Regions from separate parts of the Homo sapiens genome. Here region 2 is linked to region 1. Evidence: fine-mapped expression QTL. Tissue or cell type: whole blood. Region 1 holds a variant in brackets; the other region holds the start of a gene. All regions are shown on one strand. Distances are from middle to middle.

Region 1 (8,101 bases):
GAATAGAAACTCCTCCTATTGCCTCACGTATGAGATGAAGATCCGGGAAGCCAGGGAGCCCAGACAGGCAGCTGAGGGAAAGGCCACTCCAGGCCACTACTTCAACATTGAATACTCCAAGTGAGGAAAAGAGAATCCACTTGCTCTGAGAAGGGATAGTGACCAAATGGGGGACTTGGGCTCAGGAAGGAAGCCTGTGATGGGGTCTACGCGTCCACCCTTAGCCTCAGCCCAGCACCCTGGGTGCATGTAGAAATGCTCAGCCTCTACAGGTGGACTCTGACCTTGGTGCGGGTCCTAGGACTCTGAGACCCCATTTGTCAGACCTTCACGAAAGGCACATTCTAGGTTCTCTTCCTGTTTTATAAGAAAACAAATCATACCAAGCGCAGTGCAAAGACAACCTCTTTTTAACATGAGAGCTCTCTCAAAAGCACAAGAGCGCCTCTCTTTCTCTGAAGCAATAGGAAATTAACCCAAGCCTGGTGGGATCAGGACAGTACAGGCTTCCTGATGTCATGCTCAACAGTTGACTCTTGGGCTGAAACCAGTCACTGTCTCCTCGCACGATGTTGTTGAGACCCGGCGTGTGACAGGCCAAGCATGGCCAAGAACTGACCCGAACAGCGAGGGGGGCACCTGCACCACGGCTCACCTTTCAGAGGTTCTGCACTTTTTGGGTGAGGGATACTTTCAAACTAAGTGCATATAACATGCACCACATGTATCTGCTCCTGAAAATACTTCAATCACCAGTAATGGAACTCAGCTTCAAATGCTGCTTTCTGAATGCAAATGGTTGTATATAGCACACAGCACAAAGGGCTATTCATCACTATTCATGTACTCATCCTAGGTACCAGATTCGGGTGCATTTTCAGCGCTTGCAGCCTTCTATTACTTTGTCATGCACTGTATGAACTCGAATGTTTCCAAGACACTTCTTAGTAAGCAACCGCCTAGTTCTCCAATACTGCTTATAATATTCATTCATTGCATGGCCAACTCAGGTGACACTTGCTTCTTAACTGGGTCTAATGTCATCTTATAGACCTTTCCAGGGTTTTTAGATTTTGCAGAGTGACAGCTTGATTTTTCACCCTGTGAGCATGCGTGGCAGATGCCATGCAGAATTCCTGCCAAGCAGTGGAGTGCCTGTGAAGTGTGCGGGGACAGGGTAGACCAGCTGCCTGTCTTCCCAACTGCTCTTCTCTGTGCCTGCACTGCCATTCTCAGGGAGCAGGATGGAGCTGCTGTGCCTAATAACATTGTGTGTGTGTGTGTGTGTGTGTGTGTGTGTGTGTGTGTTTATTGAGAGGGTGGGGGGGCATCACTCAACATTCAGCCTGTACATACTCAAAGGTGTAGAAGTGACAAAGATGACTCAACCAACAGGACTTCCCATGACTGGCCAGCCAGAGGAAGAGGGCATGAGGACACAGCCAGCAGCGTTACTGGGTCGTGATGACGCAGACCTGCCGGGACACCCCCGTGGGCTCGAGGCATTGGATGGGCCTGAGAGCTGAAGCAGGGGCACTTGCAGGAATGGCACTTGAAGCCACCTGCCTGGCTTTACAGGGCAGCCTCCTGGAAGCCTCCATGAAACGCAGCTTTCCCTGGGCCACACACTGCCTGGCTCCACAAAGGCGAACAACACAGCCTGCTTTGCCCCGGATATTCCTGGTTTTGGCATTAAATGTCCACAGCCTGAGAAATCCTTCAGTCTCGGGCAAATGGGACGTTTGGTGACCCTACCACCATGTATCTTTGATTTTAGACTCCCCTGACCAATGGGAGGGCTGCAAGCACTGGCTGGGCCTGGCGGAGGTGGTCTTTGGTCATCTCTGTGGTGGCTGAAGTCCCATTAGCCTGGCAGGGCCCCCTCTCCTTACCACCAGAAATGGATCCTTTCCCAAGGCTGCTTCCCTCCCTTCCTTCCCTTGGAAAACATTCATGTGAGAAGAGGGTAAAAATGTGGAGAAAGAACTTTGTGTTGGAGGCCACGTGAAGTGTAAGATTAGAAATGCATTTTTTTAAAAACCACAGAGAAAGAGATGAATTTTAACACTGCATAGCTGAGCTTTCATCTGTTAGCTCTCGTGAGAAATGAGGGTTGTGTGTGGGCCCACTTTCAGCAACATGGCAGCTGGTTCCTTTTGCAAGGGAGGGTCCTGCATCTCTGCAGTGTGGGCATCTCACTCACAGCAAGTCTGGCCTGTGAAGCTGAGCCCTGCGTCTCGGGGGAGCAGGCTTATTTCTGGTTGCTGATGGCAAGAGGCCTCTAGGGTCTCTGGTGGGTGTGGGTTCTGCTGGATGGGTTGCCAGCAAAGGCTCTGTGCAGATTCTCTACCAAAGTCCCCCGCAGAGAAGAGAGCCTCGCAGAACTGAGGGGCCCCTCCTCCTGGGGAAGGGGAGAGAAACAGAAGGAGTAGAGGTGAAGGGCACTCTTAGCCTTGGAGACAGATTCATGATCCTCTTGTTAGAATTTTTTTTTTTTTTTTTGAGACAGAGTCTTGCTCTGTCACCCAGGCTGGAGTGCAGTGGCACGATCTCAGCTCACTGCAACCTCCGTCTCCCGGGTTCAAGCAATTCTCCTGCCTCAGCCTCCCGAGTAGCCGGGACTACAGGTGTGTGCCACCACGCCCGGCTAATTTTTTGTATTTTTAGTAGACGTGGGGTTTCACCATGTTGGCCAGGATGGCCTTGATCTCCTGACCTTGTGATCCGCCCGACTTGGCCTCCCAACGTGCTGGGATTACAGGCATGAGTCATTGCACCCGGCTGATCCTCTTATTAGAATTTTAAAAAATACCTTTAAATTCTCCTTTGAGGAAAAACAAATCTCTTAAAGGTTAACATAAAACTACTATTAAAGAGGAAAAGATATAGGTCATGTAACTTAGAGATACAAAGGACATACTTCTTAAAAGGAAAAACAAACCCTAATGCACAATATTTACCAATATTTAAATAATCCAGTTGAAACCTTTTTTTTTTTGTCATTAATGAAAAAACACACCATAGACGGTTACCTACACTGAGAAGAGTGGAAACGATGGTGTTAGG[G/A]GAGAGGAATAAGAAGGTCCGTTCAGTTAGAGCTTTGCAAGATTCGTATATACAGCACCAGATCCTATGAAATCAGCGCCCCTCGAGTCAGTACAGTTTGTGAGAAATGAACACTTCAGAATTGCAGTAGAAAATATGGCCATAAAAAAACTTCGGTCTTCCAGTCCTATGCAGGAAGGGGCACCATGCAAGGTGGGGTCTCGCTGGAGTGGCTCGCGGCTCTGGCGACCCTGGGGCTCCCCTTCCCCAGCCCCGACCCCGGGCCCCACCTCCAGGGCCAGTCACTTGCTTCCAGAGTGCACTGCCGTCACAGTGGTGGGCCTGGGTCTCCGCTCGGCTCCAACTCCTGAGACCCCCGACGAAGAAGAAATGAAACTACAGAGCGTGGAAGGTGCCAGACCTGCAGGGAACAGCAGAAGTGGGCTTCAGAGTTTCAGAGGTAAATTCTCACCCTGCTTCCCACTGCCAGGTGTCAGAGGGGCTGGGTTTATGGTGGGGGGCGGGGGGGCCCAATTTTTTTTTTTTCTTGAGATGGAGTTTCACTCTTTTCACCAGGCTGGAGTGCAGTGGCACGATCTCGGGTCACTGCAACCTCTGCCTGCCAGGTTCAAGCGATTCTCGTGCTTCAGCCTCCCGAGTAGCTGGGATTACAGGGGCTCACCACCACGCCGGGCTAATTTTTGTATTTTTAGTAGAGATGGGGTTTCACCATGTTGGCCAGGCTGGTCTCGAACTCCTGACCTCAGGTGATCCACCCACCTCAGCCTCCCAAAGTGCTGGGATTACGGGTGTGAGCCACCGCGCCCAACTTGCGGGGACCCAAATTTTTACCCGTGTGACTATTTTTACCTACCTGTGGGAAAGCCTTTGCAATGGGTTCAAAATGCTTTATTCTTAGACCTCTCCTCTCCTTTTTTTTGGTGTAATTTTAACTGCTTTGTGTTTGAAAACAACATGGTTTCACCACTGTGGTACAACAGGTTCCATGTACTGAGCACTTAATATGTAGCAGGCACCAGGCTAGTGTTGACTACATACTGTCATCATACGAATTGTCCACTTCTTATAATAGCTCTGTAAAGCAGGTATTTTAAGAAGGAATAAAGAATGATACTACCTTCCTACCCTTGGTTGGTGTGTTGTGTACACTCTTGGCTAGAAAGCATTTTGTGACGCAGAGCACTTTGAAATAAGGGTATGGTGGCTGACGCCTGTAATCTCAACACTTTGGGAGGCCAAGGTGGGTGGATCGCTTGAGTCTCAGGAGTTCCAGACCAGCTGGGGCAACCCTGGGTCTACAAAAAATACAAAAATTAGCTGCGCACGGTGGTACATGCCTGTTGTCCCAGCTACTCAGAAGGCTGAGACAGGAGGATTACTTGAGCCTAGGAGGTTGAGGTTGCAGTGAGCCGTGACTGTGCCACTGCACTCCAGTCTGGGTGACAGAGAGTGAGAGAAAGAGAGAAGAAGAGAGAGGAGAGAGGAGAAAGGAGAGGGGAGAAGGGAGAGAGGAGAGAGGAGAGGGGAGAGGGGAGAGAGGAGAGAGGAGAGAGGAGGGGAGGGGAAGGCAGGGCAAGGCAGGGCAGGGCAGGGCAGGTTAGTGGAGGAGAGGAGAAGAAAGACAAGAAAAGAAAGAAAGAAAGAAAGAAAGAAAGAAAGAAAGAAAGAAAGAAAGAAAGAAAGAAAGAAAGAAAGACAGACAGACAAAGAAAGAAAAGAAAGAAAGAAAGAAGGAAGGAAGGAAGGAAAGAAAGAGAGAAAGAAGAAAGGAAGGAAGGAAGGGAAAGAAAAAGAAAGAAAGAGAAAGAAAGAAAGGAAGAAGGAAGGAAGGAAGAGAAGAGAGAGAAAGAAAGAAAAGAAAAAGAGAGAGAAAGAAAGAAAGAAAAAGAAAAGAAAGAGAAGGAAAGAAAAAGAAAGAAAGAAGGGAGGGAGGGAAGGAAAGAAGGAAGGAAAGGAAGGAGGGAGGCAGGGAGGGAAAAGAAAAGAGAGAAGAGAGAGGGAAGGAGGGAAATAAAGGAGGGAAAGAAAAAGAAAGGAAAGCAAAAAGAAAAGAAAAAAGAGCAAGAATAGAGATGTTCACCTATTCCTGTGTGAGCTCAGCAGTCCCTGGCCTAGTGGAGCTCCTCAGAGGCTGCGCTGAAGCCCTCCCCCAGAGGATGTGCAGGCATCAAAAGCCTTGATATGAGAGGCCTCAGCCGCCACTGAGCTTGTTGGTGCAGGCCCCCAGGGAGTCTGTGTGCTCAGACATGGGGACAAACAGCCATACAAGGAGTGCTCCCGACGGGCTTTGCTGCCGATGCCAGTGTATGAATCTGTAAAGAAGGGATCCATCGTGGGGTTCCCTTTGACCAGAGGGTGGAAAAGATTCAGGGTGAAAGGGGAGCTATGGTATGTCAGGGGACACTCACAGAGATTTCTTGGGAAAATTTAAGGGCTGGATGGTCCCAAATGAGATGGGAAGATTCCTTAGAGAGGAAGGGAATCCTTTTCTGAGCCAAATGGGAAGGAGCATGATGCCCAGGGTGAGACCAGGCTGCAGGGCTGCTCCATGGTTAGGGAGATTAGGGCCACTGCTCTGATGTGGAGAGGACCCATGGGAAGGGCCAAACGGGATTATTTCCACAGAGAGAGGAGCAGTTGGGGAGAGAGATAAGGAGAGAGTAAGTGTGCCTTCGATGATGGAATAGCCCATGCAAAGACGAAGGACAATGAAATACTATTACTTTTATTGCAAAGTCAATGCACTTCACATAAATGAGCTCAAATTATCATTGTCTGCATCCAAAATATATACATTATGGAAGTCAATGGCAGGAGGCTGTCCTGAGGCTCTGCTCTCCCTTCCTCAATCCGCAAGAGTGACTGTACAATGAGAGGTAAATCAGAGGGAAGGATGGAGATGAGAAAGAGTCCAGGCCTTTATCCAGACAGACATGGCTGCGAGGACTTGAGCCCTGGATTCCTCAACTGTAAATGGAAATAGCAATACCTAGGGTTCCACGAGTGTTCAATGATTTTTCTTTTTTTTTTTTGAGAGGGAGTCTCAATCTGTCACCCAGGCTGGAGTGCAGTGGTGTGATCTCAGCTCATTGCAACCTCCGCTTCCTGGGTTCAAGTGATTCTCCTGCCTCAGCCTCCCAAGTAGCTGACATTACAGGTGCTCGCCACCACACCCGGCTAATTTTTATATTTTAGTAGAGATGGGGTTTCACCATGTTGGTCAGGCTGGTCTTAAAACTCCTGAACTCAAACAGTCCTCCTGCCTCAGCCTCCCAAAGTGTTGGGATTACAGGCGTGAGCCACTGCACCCAGCCCAGTGATTACATGTTAAAAAAAGTCCTAGGGTCGCATGACATGGGATTAAGTATAGAAAGCGCCTGGCAAACAGGAGGTGCTCGGCAGATGCCGGCTCCCTCCTCTCCACCCCAGGCTCGTCTTCAGTGTCAGCTGAGGGATTCTGGTTTTGCTACATACGCACAGTCTTTTTGGCTGGCCAAACTGAGGCTGCTCGAAACACTTGCATTTGAACTGTCCAGGCTGCTGCCGAGGTGTAGTTTTCTCATATGTCTGACGACGGCCGTGGCATTAAATGCTTGCTGAAATTTCAGAAAGGAAAAAAGCAGACAAATATTTCAGCTAATCGGAAAAGACTCTAACTGTGTTCTCTTGTTTATCACATTAGCCTAAGCATTTCAAACTCCTTACATCATTCTCATGCTACTCAAGAAGGAAAGCTTATGTTGTCCCTTCTTCTAAAAGTGCACTGATTTATTAACCCCTTTCCCCAACTAAATATTTTAGAGACTTAAAATAGTTTTCTTCTGACATCATAAATACATAGAATAAACATAAACCAATTCTCTCTGTAATTTAAGAGATGTGGCCTTTAGAATAAAAGGCATATTATAATACCTTAAAAATGTGAGATTTGAAAATAGTTTTTATTTTCCTAGTATTGGTACTTTTGTCTGAAAGATTTAGGTTGGTGCAAAAGTAATGGCAATTTTAATGGAAGAAACCACAACTACTTTTGCGCCAACCTAATGATAGCATGTCCTATGAATACAGCAGGCCAGCAAAATTAATTTTGTTTCCGTCTCATCTTTCACCATTGGCCCTCATGGCAAAATAGCTAGCTCTGAATTGCCATTGCTGATTGGAACACGGAGGGGAGGTCAGGTAATCAAGAGATTAGGAAGTCAGGTAATCAACAGATGATCACAAAACCTCCATGGTTTAAATCTGTCAAACTTTTATCAGGAAACATTGATGAGTACAACTCAGATTTCCTGTTTTTTCCCCCTCCATATCGCTTTAATAAAAGTCAGCTATTCAAAGTTCTAGCAAGGTGAAGAAAGACAAGGGTGATGTTGGTTAAGAAACAGCAGATGAGGAAGAGCTGGCACTATTGCTGTCTTTGATCACAGAGGGGAAGTGTTGAATTGCACACTCCATCCCTCTTACACCATAATATTCCCTCTGAGTCTTTATTACTTGCAGTTAAAATTAGCAAAATTATTCAGGTGAGGTTCTGGGGATTTCAGAAATGCTCAGATTGGAGGGCCAGTGTCACGAGGGGGTTAATCCACGGGGAATTTCATATACTCCACACTTACTCTCCATTTGCTCTTGGCAAAGTTTTTCCGGATCTGGGCGCTGACGGACTCGTGGATGTTTTTGTTGAGGGCTGTGTCACCAGCGATCCTGAAACAGAGGCAAAGGTGCTGCTCTGAAGTGCTTCTTCTGGGCCCTGACACTGCGTCCCATAAAGGGGAGTCTTACCTAGCCTCAGGAGAGCCGAGGCTCAGTCGTGGACAGGGTGGCTGGCCGCTGCCCTTCCAGGCTGCTGATGTCATCACCTGGCCATTCCCTAAACCCACCCATTCTAACCCCTCACCACAAAGTCCTATTCCAGCTTCTACACTCCGCACCCTCCCCAGACCCGCCAGCGCCCTCCTGGTTGACTACTCCCCGGCTCTCATTTTTTCCTTCTTTGACCCCAATTCCTGCAACATCAGAATCCACAGTGACAATG
Region 2 (8,101 bases), 480 kb after region 1:
AGAAGGTAATGTAGGTCAATGTCCAAGCAGTCCACAGGCCACAAAACCCCTCATGGCTGAACCAGACCTAAAACCCAGTCTCAAATCCTCCACGATGCCTTGTCCAGCCATCTACAGACAGGAACAACTTCAACTTCAAATGCTCAGTCTACACGAAAAACATGCATTCATATCCCGCGGAGATGAAGATCCATTTTCTAGGGCATGCCATGTTCTGTACTCCAGGGGAAATGAGGTTTGTTGGGAGACTCATTCTGCCACGTGCCAAGTACCCAGGCCTTTCCATTCACATACATTTCACAGCCTGGAAATTGCAGAAGTGACTTCTATGAGTCTAGGGTGCTTCCTAGACACCACACCGAAGCTTTCCTCCCATCCATATACTTCTCCGAATAGTATTTTAGGGGTTTTTTTATTTTTTGCTTCAGTAGTCACTGAAAGATAGCTACGATAGGGACGGCCTGAACAGCCTTGGCAAATACACCAACAGAAATGTGTACCCCTCCTAATTTGCCATTACATAACATTTATTTGTTCTCATAGTGTGCCAAGGGTCTGAAAACATGTTGATTAATAGACAATAATTAAGTCTCACCACCTTATTCAGAGATATGGTTATGTTCTGGGATTCCCTTTTGTAGGAGGCTGCACTGAAGCGCACAGGTTGAAAGGTTTGTCCCTGAGACCTGACTCAGAGGTGCATCAGACAACCCAGGCCAGACCACAAAGCCCAGTCCTTTCTCTTATGCTGCTCTTTGCTTCCTCAATCTCATTTTCCACCCTCCTGGGCCAACCTTCACTCCCATTCGGCCCCCACTCTCCAGCAAGGTCCCTCTAACCATACAGCCTAACCGCCTTGACCCCTTAGCTTCCAACAGTAAATGCTCGGCTCCATGAGGTGAGATACCTGGATAAGGCAGTGGATATCAGATTACAAAGTCTGGCAAAATGAGTGCTCCTCCAGCCTTTGCAATGCTTTATTTTAAATACATGTGAACATTGTGAGCTGACAGCCCTGCTTCTTACAAGGCTTTCCTGCCTTCGTATCTTAAAGACGTAGGGAGAAAGTAGGGCAAACAAAGTGACTGGAACTGCGGCATACTTTGGAAATGAATGCCAGTGGTTAATTGTCGATGCCTTTCATTTGTGTTAGATTTCATTCAAAACAAGAGAAGGGCCCAGACTCAAAATCCCCACTGAAGGGACCAGAAGTCAACTCCACATTAAGACTCGGGCCAGAGTCACCGGTCATGGCCCAGGGTGGAGCAGGCATCTTGAACTGGGGACCACTTCTAGAAAGTACACAGAGGCGGCTGGGCGCAGTAGCTCACGCCTGTAATCCCAGCACTTTGGGAGGCCGAGGCAGGCGGATCATGAGGTCAGGAGATCGAGACCATCCTGGCTAACACGGTGAAACCCCGTCTCTACTAAAAATACAAAAAAATTAGCCAGGCATGGCGGCGGGCGTCTGTAGTCCCAGTTACTCGGGAGGCTGAGACAGGAGAATGGCGTGAACCCATGAGGCAGAGCTTGCAGTGAGCCGAGATTGCGCCACTGCACTCCAGCCTGGGCAACAGAGTGAGACTCCGTCTCAAAAAAAAAAAAAAGAAAGTCCACAGAAGCAAAAGGACGACAATCCAAAAGCTCTGAAATGCTTCCAAGTTTTCCAAGTTTAGATAACATTATGCTATCATTATTGCCATCATTATGTTTTCTCATTTATTTTATTTTATTTTTTTGAGACCGAGTCTCACTCTGTGGCCCAGGCTGGAGGGCAGTGGCGCAATCTCAACTCACTGAAATCTCTGCCTCCCCAGTTCAAGCGATTCTCCTGCCTCAGCCTCCCGAGTAGCTGGAATTATAGGCACACACCACCACACCCGGCTAATTTTGTTATTGTTAGTAGCAACAGGGTTTCACCATGTTGGCCAGGCTGGTCTCGAACTCCTGACTTAAGTGATCAGCTCGCCTCAGCCTCCCAAAGTGTTGGGATTACAGGTGTGAGCCACCACGCCCAGCCCATTATGTTTTCTTTACATTAATATTAAAGTTCGCGTTCCAAATACTAAAGTTAAGTCAAATTATTGACTAAGCATTGGCCATTACAGGATCTACAAAGTGTGTCAACCCTGTATGGACAATCAAAAGTTGCTCTGCCTATCTGTGAATACCAGCTCCGCCACTTAATAGTTAGCTAAGGTTTGGTAGCTCACATAATTATCTCTGCTGCCTTAGTTTTCTCATCTGCAAATTGGGTGTAATGGTAAATACCTACCTCATAAGGTTACTCTGAGATTTAAATGAGTTAATACACATAAGGCACGTAGAATAATACCTGATCCTGGGTATACATTTCAGAATACCACCTATGATTACCATGATTATTATGTGGAGTAAAAACATCTTGATCATCACACTGTTTCTATCATTCTTCTAGGTCCAATGCCAGTGCTACAGTGGGAAGCTCCTTTGCAAAGAATTCCATCCCAGGCAGAAGGCAATGCTTTAGGACCCTAAGAGAGACCCATTCCCAAAGCTCACAGGGAACATGGCTGGAGTCCAAGAGGCTGTTCTGCCAGAGAAGCGCTCTGGCACCAGAGGGCAAATCCCCATTTTTCCCCAAGGTGGAAACCACCCACAGTCATCTCCAAACACCATGCTCCAGCAGGAGCCACAGCTTGGAGCCTCAGCAGCCCCGCCACTGCAGAGGTGCAGCTGCACGAGTCAGTCAGGGGACAGGGCATCAGTCACCCGGAGGCTACAGGCAGGAAGCCAGTGTGGGGGGCTCGGGTGGGAACAAGCCACGGACAGGAAAGCATTCACACAGGGTGGGTCCCCATGCTCTCCCATCTCCTCATTGGCGGCCACAGTGCGGGTCCTGGATGACAAGCAAAGGCCATGCTTTCTTGTCTCTCAGTAACTTGAGCATCTCAGAATCACAACCCCAAACCCGAATAAACCTCAGTGGCAATTTTCAAAAGTTTTGACCCAAACTAACCCCTTACCTGGCTGCACTAAGAGGCAACCCCAAACCCCTATTTATTAAAAAGCTACATCTTTTTCTGTTTTCATTCCAACAAAGATAGCAAATAGGTGCCCTCCCTGAAAGGCAACAACCACAGCAGGGAGACCCCACTCTAGTCCTCAGCGTGCGCCTTCCCGGGAATCAGAAGCAGGACTGGGAAAGCCACCCTCACAACTTCTCTCCGGGGGACCCCCTGCAGATCTGCGTGGGGGTGAGGGGAAATGACTGAACAGCAGCAGACGCCGAGCCTGGAGGTGAAGACAAGCTGGGTAATGTGGTGCTGGAAAAAAGAAACCAAGCACAAAAACAAGCACACGGAAAAAAAGGAGGAAGGAAAGAAAGGGCACCCAACAACGCACTGATTTATCCCATGAAATAGCTCCCCTTTCTCTTCCCAGCCTAATCAACACCTCCATGAACCCCTGCAAAATGGGCATTTCTGACTGCACACCTGTGCGTGAATCCACACTGACAGATACTGATGCAGAGCAAATACTGATTGTGTGAGGGAAGGAAATAACTTGAACTTCAGACTCATTCGGCAGGTCCTGATTCTCTTTCACTATCAGCCTCCCCACCTATTCTGAGCCGCTCCGAAACAAAACAAACAAGACCCAACTCCTGGGCAGAAAGGGAACAGCAGCTGAGCTGAGCAGCACATGCTTGGAGCGTTCCTGCCATCGACTTCGGATTATTTCTGCTTTCTTGAGACACAGCCATCAGCATGGGACTCGATGCAGCCCGGAGAGAGCACCGCCCGCGCAGCGACGCGCACAGACCCTCCCTTGGAGACGCGCTCCCCGGCGCGTGCGGCCGAGCCCGCGTGAAATGCACAGACCCTCCGGTGAGGCTCTGCCCACGTGTGACCCTGAGCACTGCGAAGCCCTTCCCTTCCATCCTCGCGTGGCCACCCAAAGTCTTGCCTACACCTCGTACGTGCAGATGCCAATTCCATAGAAATACATGATGTAAGGACAGAAATGGGAACGACTGGAGGCTGATCTTCTCGTGACCACGTCTCGCCAACGCGGTGCGCCCATGCACACGGCGAGTAAACGCACACAGCCGGTAAACAGCCATCCCCACCATGCTCAGCCCACAGTCACGCGTGGGGAGAAGGCAGCGGAGAGGGCGGCGGTGGCAGGAGAAGTGGGAAGTCGCGCGCCCGCGTGGGCTGCTCCCTGACAGCCCGGCGCTGCCCCCTCCCCCTCCCGGGAACGGCGCCCACCCGGGGGTCGCAGGCCCACGCGTCGGGCGCGCTCGGGGGGGCTCCGCAGCGCCGAGAACGGGACAATGAGGACGCGGTGACAGGCTGGGTTTCTGCCGCGGTAGTGGCGGCGGCGGCAGCTGGAGCTGCCCGTGCAGCCCCTGCCGCGGCCACCTCCACCCTCGCCTCCCCGGTCCCCACTTACGTTCCGAGGGTCTCTTTGAACTCGAAGATCTTCTTGATGTCTTCAGCTTGCTTTTTCCAGGAGGAGCTGCTCTCGCCGTTCTCCCGGGCCATGGCCGACGAGCGCGGCGCGGAGGAGCGGCCGGGGGCGCGCTGGGGAGGGGGCGCCGGGGGCGCGGCGCGGGCGCAGAGGCGGCGGGGATGCCGGGCGGCTCGGGCTGCGGCGCAGCTTCCTCCTCTGCAGTTTCCTCTTTCGCTCTCGCCGCCGCCGCCGCGGCCGCGGTCCCTCCCTGGCTCTTATTTCTGCTGTTCTCGGGCACAGACTTCCTGCCGCCGCCGCGCGCCGGCTCCTTTGCCGCCGCCTGCCAGCCTCACTTTCTGCTACTTTCTTGCCTCCCTCCCGCTCCCTCCCTGCCGCCCGCCGCGCTCCCCCCCACCTCGCGCCTCCTCCCCCTCCTCCCCCTCCTCCCCCTCCCGCGGGCTCCCCGCCCTCTCCGTGCGCCCCGGCCGCTCCCCGCCTCCAGCGCGCCGCCTTCGGGGATGTCCCGCTCCCCTCCCAAGAGCGCCGGGCCACGGCCGTCGTGCCCCCTGGAGCCCCGGCGAGGGCGGGTACGGGCCCCCGGCAGGTGCGGGGCGCACGCGGGAGAGCCCCAGCCCCTCCGGGAGCTGGAAACGGAGCCCAGTCTGGGGGCGCCGGGGCTTTCCCGTCTCCGGCGGGAGGGGGCGCCTCTGCGTGGCTCGGAAGCGCCGGGCGGGCGGGGGTGCGCGGCGGCCGGATGCGGGGCGCCGAGGGCGGGGCGCCTTCCCGCGCTGTGGCCTGTGGCCCGGGGGACCCGAGGGGCAAGGCGTGGGGTGGGGGGGGTGGGGGCCGGTTGTTATGGCGACGGGCGGCGGCGGCGGCTGGGATGGAGGCGGAGGCGGGCGGGAGCTCATTCGCATTGCACCAAATCGGTTTCACGTCAGTTTCGGGACAGACCCGCGAGGAGCAAGCCGGGGAGCCTCTGGGCGGGTACGCGCAGGACGCGCCAGCAGCTGCCTCGTGGTCCCTTTGCGAGCAAAACTCCCGGGGGTGTTTGGCAGCCGCGCGGGCGCCCTGGTGCTGGGCTGGAGCGGCCGGCGGGCCTGGCCGGCCTGGTTGCCCTGGCTCACGCTTGGCCCCTTCTGGCATCTCCCTGTCTCCTCCCAGAGACTCAGTGGAAAGAAGTGATCGTCTGCCCCGCAGTCCCCTCGAAGGAGGAGCCCACCCGCGGCTGGCTTAGTAGGGTGTCCGGGTTGCGGGGCAGGCACCTGCTTTCCTATGGACTGCCAAAACTAACCCAGAGAATTCCCTCCGGACTCCCATCTCCCAGCTGTACTTTGGCCTGCCCGCCCCACTCCTGGTGTCCACCTGTCAGAGGGCAGCCCACGTGCTCCAGTTCCCTGGTCCCCAACCTGCAGGGGCGACCTCTTGATCGGAAAATTTTAGATTTCTTGGTATCAACACTTCGCCTCCCTCAGGGCCTCTCCTCGTAGTTGGGTAAACAGCTCTGTCTCTTGACTGGGGACACCTGTCCCATTTTCCCAGGACTGTTCCAATTTCACTGTAAAAGGAAAAAAAAAATCTGCTCCCTGAATAGGAAACTTCATCCAGCACCTTGTGCCTAGTTCTGACTCTGGCTGAAGTGGAGGCAGCCCAGCTGCTCTCCCTCAGCCCCTACTCTGACCCTAAAGAGGTCAGACGACACCCTGGCATCCCCATTCCTGGGACCTCCATGCTAGTTTCCATCTTTCAAAGACGGTTAGCTTAAGGTTTTCCAAACTGAGAAGAGCAAAGAGGGGATTTACTTGCCGGTTAGATGTAGAATAAATCCACAAACCCAATTTCCAACACGGATGGGTGAGAAGAATTACTAAGGAACCTCTCTTATACTTGAGGCACATTACCAAAGTTCAAGGCAAACAGCATCCCCTTCAATAAGAAACATTTGAAAAACTATCATGTATTTTACTTGTGCCAAAGGTTAGATAATACAAACAGTGGGAACCAGGGCATAAGTCAACTAAGATCCCAACTGTCGCTTTCTCATGCCTACAGTCAGCATCTTCTTGTCCTTTCTTTCTCCTTCCCTTCCTCCCACTGTGTTTCCTTCTCCTCTTTTCCTATTTGGTTCTCTGCTATGTTGCCCTTGCTGCCTGGCCTCAGGAACAGCCGCCAGAGCTCATGAAAACAATTCTCATTCTCAGCTATTATCCCCACAGCTGAAGAAGTGCTGATTCTCTACTACCCGGCCATAAAAAAGAATGAAATCATGTCTTTTGCAGCAACGCAGTTGGAACTGAAGGCCATTATCTTAGGTGAAATAACTCAGAAACAGAAAGTCAAATACCACATGTTCTCACTTAGAAGTGAGAGCTAAGGCTAGGCATGGTGGCTCACGCCTGTAATCCCAGCACTTTGGGAGGCCTAGGCCAGTGGATCACCTGAGGTCAGGAGTTCAAGACCAGCCTGGCCAACATGGTGAAACTCTATTAAAAATAAAAATTAGCCAGGCATGGTGGCACATGCCTGTAATCCCAGCTACTCAGGAGGCTGAGGCAGGAGAATCACTGTAACCTAGGAGGTTGCAGTGAGCGAAGATTGCACCATTGCACTCCAGCCTGGCGACAGAGCAAGACTCCATCTCAAAAAAAAAAAAAGGAGAAGAAGTGGGAGCTAAATAATGTGTATATGTGGACAGAGAGTGTGGAATAATGACATTGGAGTGGGGTAGGGGAAGGGATGAGAAATTAACTAATGGGCATGGTGTACCCTATTCTGGTGATGGTTAAGCTAAAAGCCCAGACCTCACCACTACGCAATATATCCATGTAACAAAACTGCACTTGTACCCCTAAATCTATAAAAATAACCATTAGAAAAAAAGAAAGAAGGCAATTTTACAGGAACAGTAAAGATGAAGGGAAAGCAAATGAGAACTTCCACGTGGCCTGTGGCCGTGACTTTTCCTACCAGGCTATAAGCTCCATGAGAGCAAGGCACCTGTTAACTTTCTCGCCACTGTTTCCCAGCACCTGACACGGTAACCTACCCATACTGACTGATCTGTAAATGTGTGTCGAATGGATAAAGAAATGAAATTGAGGCCAGGCGTGGCAGCTCACGCCTGTAAAATGCCAGCACTTTAAGAGGCAGAGGCAGGCGGATCACCTAAGATCAGGAGTATGAGACCAGCCCGGCCAACATGGTGAAACCCTGTCTCTGCTAAAACTACAAAAATTAGCCGGGCGTGGTGGTGTGCGCCTGTATCCCAGCTACTCAGGAGGCTGAGGCAGGAGAATCACTTGAACCCAGGAGGCAGAGGTTGCAGTGAGCCGAGATCATGCCACTGCACTCCAGCCTGGTCAACAGAGTGATATTCTGTTCAAAAAAAAAAAAAAAGAAAGAAATGAAATCGAGTTAAGACCGCTATTTGGTATTTGTTGTACTGGTGGAACTGCTGTAGGGAGCTTTATTTCTTTTCCAGACTTTCTGTAATGATGTTCATTTGGCATTATCAAGCTATTCTAAGCTGGACGAGGTCCTCAAGAAAAAGCATACTTCTTTTTTTTCTTTATTTTCTTTTTTTTTTTTTTAAGACAAATTCTTGCTCTGTCGCCACGGTAGAGTGCGGTGATCTCAGCTCACTGTAACCTCCACCACCCAGGTT

What was found. PIP is the estimated chance that this variant, and not a neighbour inherited with it, causes the effect.
Region 2: it holds the start of CAMK1D, and the variant in region 1 is fine-mapped to the expression of CAMK1D in whole blood (TOPMed, PIP above 0.99).

What each region holds. Positions count from the first base shown.
Region 1 is chr10:12,824,134-12,832,234 of GRCh38, reverse strand. It overlaps CAMK1D (calcium/calmodulin dependent protein kinase ID), which reads right to left. Exons shown (of 11, transcript NM_153498.4): 9 at 7,683-7,770; 10 at 6,545-6,662; 11 at 1-3,466. The coding sequence ends at 3,348. Among named protein-coding and RNA genes, the nearest start is that of MIR548Q, 100 kb to the right of the region's middle. The variant G/A (reference allele first, on the strand shown) is at 3,067.
Region 2 is chr10:12,346,247-12,354,347 of GRCh38, reverse strand. It overlaps CAMK1D (calcium/calmodulin dependent protein kinase ID), which reads right to left and starts at 4,801. Exons shown (of 11, transcript NM_153498.4): 1 at 4,438-4,801. The coding sequence starts at 4,529. RefSeq lists enhancers at 3,653-3,812, 3,987-4,486 and silencers at 4,523-4,612, 4,783-5,342, 5,383-5,642.